2 linked regions of the Homo sapiens genome follow. The protein of the gene in region 1 interacts with the protein of each later gene in a pairwise test. Each region holds a gene or a part of one and is shown in the gene's direction. Other genes may lie near its edges.

The links.
Region 2: the proteins of SDHD (region 1) and SLC13A1 interact in a protein complementation assay, tested with the Homo sapiens proteins (one large-scale study listed by BioGRID).

Annotation. Positions count from the first base shown.
Region 1 is NC_000011.10:112,093,084-112,096,623, forward strand, and holds the end of SDHD (succinate dehydrogenase [ubiquinone] cytochrome b small subunit, mitochondrial isoform a precursor), read left to right. Parts: coding exon of another isoform or gene 1-114; exon of another isoform or gene 115-126; intron 127-1,721; coding exon 1,722-1,887; 3' UTR 1,888-2,711; downstream 2,712-3,540. UniProt on the Homo sapiens protein: Membrane-anchoring subunit of succinate dehydrogenase (SDH) that is involved in complex II of the mitochondrial electron transport chain and is responsible for transferring electrons from succinate to ubiquinone (coenzyme Q).
Region 2 is NC_000007.14:123,172,409-123,176,237, reverse strand, and holds part of SLC13A1 (solute carrier family 13 member 1), read left to right. Parts: intron 1-3,829. UniProt on the Homo sapiens protein: Sodium:sulfate symporter that mediates sulfate reabsorption in the kidney and small intestine. Can also mediate the transport of selenate and thiosulfate.

The DNA of each region.
Region 1 (3,540 bases):
GAGTGCAATGGTGCGATCTTGGCTCGGCACGATCTCGGCTCAGCACGATCTCAGCTTACTGCAACCTCCGCCTTTCGGGTTCAAGCGATTCTCCTGCCTCAGCCTCCCAAGTAGCTGGCATTACAGGCATGTGCCACCACGCCTGGCTAATTTTGTATTTTTTGTAGAGATGGGGTTTCTCCTTGTTGGTCAGGCTGGTCTTGAACTCCCAACATCAGGTGATCCGCCCACTTCACCCACCCAAAGTGCTGGGATTACAGGTGTGAGCCACCACGCCCAGTGGTGTATGGGTTCTTTTATATGAAATGTCTAGAACAGGCAAAGCCATAGAGACAGAAAGTAAATTTGTAGTTGGGTAGTGGGCTAAGAGGTAGAGGGTTTCTTTTTGGGGTAATGAGAATGTTCTGGAATTAAATGATGATTGCACAACTCAATATACTAAAAACCAGTGGATTATATACTAAAAAGCGTGAATTTTTTCTGGCGTTTGACTTACATTGCAATAAAACTGTTATAAAAATAGTAAAATTAGGTCACTCCTAATCTCAGGCACTCCCTGCTTAAAATGTATCAGTGGTTTCCTATTATATTTCATATAAAATTCAGATTCCTTATCATGACCTTCAAGACCCTATGCAACCGACCCCTGCCTTCCTCTGATCTCTGCTTCACCCATGTGCTCCAGCCACACAAATCTTACTATTCATTAGAGATGCCACTTTGGTTTGGATGTTCTCATTCATGTCTTCCTTTCTAAAGTGTTTCTTCTCAGTACATATATATTTACTTTTTCCTTCTCATTCACTAGTATATTCCATAAGGGTAGGGATGCTGTCTCACTTACTATACTCCCAACATTTATGACAGATTCTGGCACATGATATCTACTTAATAAATTCTTTTTGAATTAATTAAAAATACTGTAGAGTTTTAGTTATTTTTAGTTATTGGGGTGAAAGGATCACTTGCAGCCAAGAGTTCAAGACCAGCCTGGGCATCATGGTGAGACCGCATCTTTAAAGAAATAAAAAACAGGCCAGGCGCAGTAGCTCACGCCTGTAGTCCCAACACTTTGGGAGGCTGAGGTGGGCGGATCACAAGGTCAGGAGTTCGAGACCAGCCTGGCCAATATGGTGAAACCCTGTCTCTACTAAAAATACAAAAATTAGCTGGGTGTGGTGGTGGGCGCCTGTAGTCCCAGCTACTTGGGAGGCTGGGGCAGGAGAATCACTTGAACCCGGGAGGCGGAGGTTGTAGTGAGCCGAGATCGTGCCACTGCACTCCAGCCTGGGCAAAAGAGCGAGACTCTGTCTCAATAAATAAATAAATAAATAAATAAATAGAAGGAAATAAAAAACAATTAGCCGGGCATGGAGGCATGCTCCTATAGTCCCAGCTACTTGGGAGGCTGAGGCAGGAGGATCACTTGAGCTCAGGAGTTCGAGGCTGTAGTGAGCTATGATCAGGCCACTGCACTCCAGCGTGGGCAACAGAGTAAGACTTTGTCTCTAAAGAAAAGTCACTAGAAATAGACTTACTGACATACACACGCAAAAGGCTATACAGAATCCCCTAAAGAAGCAAACAGTGACAGTGGAGTGGCAAATGGAGACATTGCATTTGAACTTGACAGATTGTTTTTTTGCAGCCAAGTTATCTGTATAGTCTTCTAATTTCACTGTGGTTTTTTATTGATGTTATGATTTTTTCTTTTTCTTTAGGGGCCTTGGACAAGTTGTTACTGACTATGTTCATGGGGATGCCTTGCAGAAAGCTGCCAAGGCAGGGCTTTTGGCACTTTCAGCTTTAACCTTTGCTGGGCTTTGCTATTTCAACTATCACGATGTGGGCATCTGCAAAGCTGTTGCCATGCTGTGGAAGCTCTGACCTTTTTGACTTCATACTTTGAAGAATTGATGTATGCCTCTTTGCCTCTGCTTTGTCATGCCATTAAGCTCACAATAAGGAAGAAATAACAGATAAGTCCATTGGTGGACAGCCTTCTTCTCTTAATCACAAGATTATTTTCAGAATTTAATCTTTGAGGAAAAGGTTTGAGAGGAATTATATCTAAGTTGTGAGACTGAGTTCTATATTCTGGTGAGTTAATGGGGTTGCCTCCCAGCTTCTTATAAGACTCACAGTATAACTAAACATGATATATCAGCTTTTGCCTTTCAATTTATCAATCTCTTAAAGAGAATCCAACTTTATTACGATTAGTATATGATCAAACTTCCATATTTGCCTTGGGAATAATGGACAAAGGGAAATACTCTTAATTCATGAATAAAAACTTTGCAGAAAATTAGACAGTGTTTAATTTTCGAAAACTTCCCTCTCTAGACAGTAGATACCACCTACTGATGGTTACATATACTAGGGAAATTTTAAAATTAGGAAATGCTGATAGCTCATATTATAAATTTCTAAATCCTAGGAAGAAACGCTTGGAGTGCTTCTGAATATACAGAAGTTCCATTTAAGGGCAAGTTTCCCTGTAGATGTATCAAAATACTACCAACTGTAAATTGAGATTTAATTCCCAAATGTATTCTACTTGTTCTAAAACAATCTGTCCACAAATATAAAACTATAAGTAATAAATTGTTATTTTCGCACAATGGGAATCTCTAATGTGAAAATGTATTCTATGAAAATAATTTTTTTAAATAAAATGTTATATAATAAAAGTGTCTTCTATGCTTTTATATATTAGCTATCAGTAGTTTTATTCATTAGAATTAGGTGTCCATTGCATCCACAGCATGAAAACAAAATTGGGTTTTTTTTTTTTTTTGAGACGGAGTCGCACTCTGTCACCCAGGTTGGAGTGCAGTGGCGTGATCTCGGAGCACTGCAAGCTCCGCCTCCCAGGTTCATGTCATTCTCCTGCCTCAGCCCCCCGAGTAACTGGGATTACAGGCACCCACCACCACGCCCAGCTAATATTTTGTATTTTCAGTGGACATGGGGTTTCACCGTGTTAGCAAGGATGGTCTCGAACTGCTGACCTCGTGATCCACCCATCTTGGCCTCCCAGAGTGCTGGGATTACAGGCATGAGCCACCCCGCCCAGCCAAAATTGAGTGTTTAAATTTTCTTCTGGGGCTTAGCAGTTAGGTAAATCAGACACAAAGTACTGGAAAACAAAAAGGACTTGTAATAGGCAGAAAAATACCAAGTGTATAAGTAATTTGGTATAAACAGAGTATAAGGTTTAGTATTTAGGAATAAGAACTATGTCCAGATTATGGTGTTCTGTGAATACCAGCCTTTGGAATTCATATTATGTTCTATGTGTATTTAGTCTGGTCTAAGAGTTGAGTGTAAGGCATGATGCTGTCTTCTATCAATATAGAGTAACTGGGACTAAGCACATTTTACTCACCAAGGACCTTACTGGGAAGCTGAGGCAAAGGAAGAGTATGTGTTTATGAATGTGTACTAGGGGTTAAAGACATGCTCTCCTTGATGTGCCTGTGGTCTTGTAGAGACTCAAGTGTGCATTAGGGTTTAGGAAGAGGTGATTAATTCTGT
Region 2 (3,829 bases), on another chromosome or scaffold:
CATAGAATAGGTACTACAATGAAAACAGAGAATGTGAAGTTTTTTTCTTAAGTTTAACAACTAATTTTATTTGGACTGCAGGCTGTAGTTTGTTTGCATGGTCTATTGAGAAAACTGGCAAACTGTGGGCCTGAAGGCCAAATCAGCCTGCTGCCTAATTTTTAAAATAAACTTTTTAGTAGGACAAATCCATAGTCATTCATTGACATATTGCCTTTGGCTATTTTGTGCCATGACAGAGTTGAATAATTACAATGAAGACCATATGGCCAAAAAAGTCTAGAATATTTACTGCTTGGCCCTCTACAATATGCTAACTCCTCATATAACCCAAATCAGTAACAGCAAGAATGTCTCATAGTCCTGGACTTCTTTCTGTGTCTAATCACTTACTAATAATGGCTTGCTTCTAAGTGTTTATTTGTATTTTTAAGTAATTCTGCATTTATTCTTTTATTTAATTCTCAGAGTATTGGTAAAATAGGGTATCTTAGCCCATTCAGATTACTACAACAAAATACATTAAGCTGGGTAAATAAACAACAGATATTTATTGCTCACAGTTCTGGAGGCTGTGAAGTCCAAGATCAAGGCACTGGCAGATTGAGTGTATGGTAAGGGCTTGCTGTCTGCTCCATAGATGGCATCTTGCTGCTGCATCCTCACATGATGGAAGGGGCAAGGGAGCTCTCTCAGGCCCCTTTTATAAAAGTACTAATTCCATTCAAGAGGTTGGAGTGAACATATTTGGTTCCTTTTAGGTGCCAACATATGAATTTGGGTGGGGGACACCAACGTTTAGACCACAGCAGTCAATAGGGCTTATTTCCATGAGCCAAACTGCAAAAGAGATAAGGGAAAATGAAAACTTAAATCTTTATTCATTTTTCAATAATAAACTCAAGGATCAGCTCCTGTAAGAAGACTTTCCCAATCCCTCTAGGAAAAAAAATTATCACCCCACTTACTTTTAAAATCTCAATTATATTTTGGAGAGGTATCATTCAAGCATCTATAATACTTTATTGCACTTTTTGTTAACTTGTTTTTTCTCATCTAATAGCTTGTAAGCTCTTTAAGTCTAGGGACTTATTAAATTTAACATCCATTGAGTGCCAGTTTGTGCCAGGCATGTGCTAAGTCCATAAATACAATGATCAATAAGATACATCTTGCCTTCAAGATAAATCTAGTGTAATAAAGGGGATAAATAAGTGAAGAAATTATCAATATATAAATTAAGATGTACTATAAAAAGGGAGATATTATCTAATCCAGTTTAGTGTCCTAGGGAAGATATCTTAGAAGAACTGACATCTTCCATGAAGGAAGACTAGAAGTATCCAAGACAAGCAGAGAGGGTCATTCCAGGTTAAATTGCAAGCAAGTGTTAAAGCACTTCTGTGTTTGGGGAACTAAATACATAGGAAGAAGAAGGGTGGAGTGGCAAAAAACTAAATTGGAGAAGTGAAATGGGACCAGATGATGAAGGGTCTTTTATGACATGTTGAAAATATTGGATTTGGTCTTTAAAACTATGGGAAGTTCTTAAAAACTATACTGAAGAAGTATAAGAAGGACAATTATGTGATCAGATTTACACTGTAGAAAAGGGGCTATGACAATGGTATGGAGTGGATCAGAAAAAGATCGATCATACAGTAGCCAAGTGAGAAATAGTGAGGAACTTAATCAAGGTAGTCATGTGTAAACAGAGAAAAAGGGACAAATTTTAAAGATATGAAGGACCTAGGAATAATAGGACTTATATTGGAAGTGAAAAAGGAATCATGGCTGACCTTTAGGTCTCTGTCTTGGGCAACTGAGTAGATAGATGTTTACATTAACTACAAAGGGAGAATGTGTTTGAAGGATGGGGAGTGAGAAAATGAGAAGTGTCATTGTGGATATGTTGAATTGTAGGTGTTTGTGGGAAATTCAAATGGAAATGAACAGTTGGACATATCAGTCTGAAACTCAGAAGACTTATCTGTGTGGAAATAAAGATCTTGGTGTAGTCTACATTCATTTAACAAAGGTTCATTGAGTGCCCCCATGTATGTGCCAGGCATTATTTTAGTCCCATAAAGTTGAATCTTTCAAATTCAGTCATTGGATGGATAAAACAAGGAGACTATAAAGACTATGGACAGAACCCTGTGGAATACCAGCATTTTGGAGGACCGAGATAACTGGATTTTCAAAGTTAGAAAAAAAAGAAAAATTCACAGGCAGGTATAGAACCAGGGAGAAAAAAAAAAAAAAAACAGCTTCCCGACTCTGGAAGCACTGGCAAATTAATATACTGAAATACTTATACCTAGAGTAAGAGTTGAAAGAGGTGGGAGACTAGGAAGTAGAGGACAGAGTGTAGAAAATTGGGATATAAGAGCTCAGAGACCATAGCTTATTCATTGTCCCTCTCTCCCTCATTCTTTCAATTCTATTTACCAAGCTCTCTACTGTGTACCAGCACTATGCTAGGTGCAAAATACGTGATGGTTAGCAAAATAGAGTCCTGGTTTGGCTAGCAAAACAGATTCCTGGTCCTCATCAGAATGTATGGTATAATAGAGAAAACAATAAGCACGTAAACAAACAGTATTTACGTAATGTATATACTACGAAAAAACCAAACACGGCTCTATGATACAGAAAAATATAGGACCTATTTAGAAAGGCCTGATATTTGAGAATTGAAGAGGTGCAAAGAGGGAAAAATTTATCAAGCATTTATTAATATATACTCTGCTCCTATAATATTTTTGGTGCATATGGATAATTTTTCAATGAGTAATAAATGAAATAGCAAGGAAATTGATATAATTATTTTCTATTATCCAATCACTACAAAATGTAAAGAGATAGATATAAACTTTGAAAGACATCATAAATGAACATTTTATAAAATATAAAAGTTGTCCACTTGCCTACTTTTAATTTCAAGGGTAATTATCAATTTTTGCTTTTTATCGAAACGAAGCCAAGCTTAGCAAATTATGTTAAAAATGCAGATATAATTTAATATAGCAAAATTATCATAAGAATTGATTTTCCTTTTTGTGGTTTTGTAACATTAGAATGGTTTTATTCCAACATTCCCATTCCTTCTATTAGCTATTGTTTGATTTTTTTAGAGGGGCATTTACTCTTATAATCCTCTTTCAGCACAGCCTTGTGTTTCAGTTTAGCCAAGTGCTTCTTAAAGTAAGTTATCTTGAATACCACTCTCATGAAGTGCTCCACCTAAAAATTAAATAAAAATAAGTTTTTAATAATTAAGTAAATCTGAAAAATATGTAGTATATGATATCCCCCTCTTTAAAAATGACATTATACACTATTGTTTAAAGGTTTTTGCAAAGGCCTATAGGAGAGAAAGTTCTAGTATGTCAAAATTCTGTTTTCTCAACCTAATCAATTACACAACCCTTTTAAAAAAAAAGATTATGTACCTAAATGTATTTCAAAGTATTCTTTAAGAAATACTGCTGCAAATGGTTGCTTAAAGTTCTAGGTCCTTTACTAATCTCTGAATGGTGTTGACTGAAAATTGCTTAAAATATTAAGTCTCATTTGAGGGTATTTGTTTTACAATTTTATTATTATTATTTTTTAAGATGAAGTCTCACTCTGTCGCCCAGGCTAGAGTGCAATGGCACGATCTCGGCTCACTGCAACTCCGCCTCCTGGGTTCAAGCAATTCTTCTGTCTCAGCCTCCAGAGTAGCTGGGATTGCAGTCATGCACCATTACACCTGGCTAGTATTTTGTATTTTTGGTAGAGATAGGGTTTCACTATGTTGGCCAGGATGGCCTCGAACTCCTGA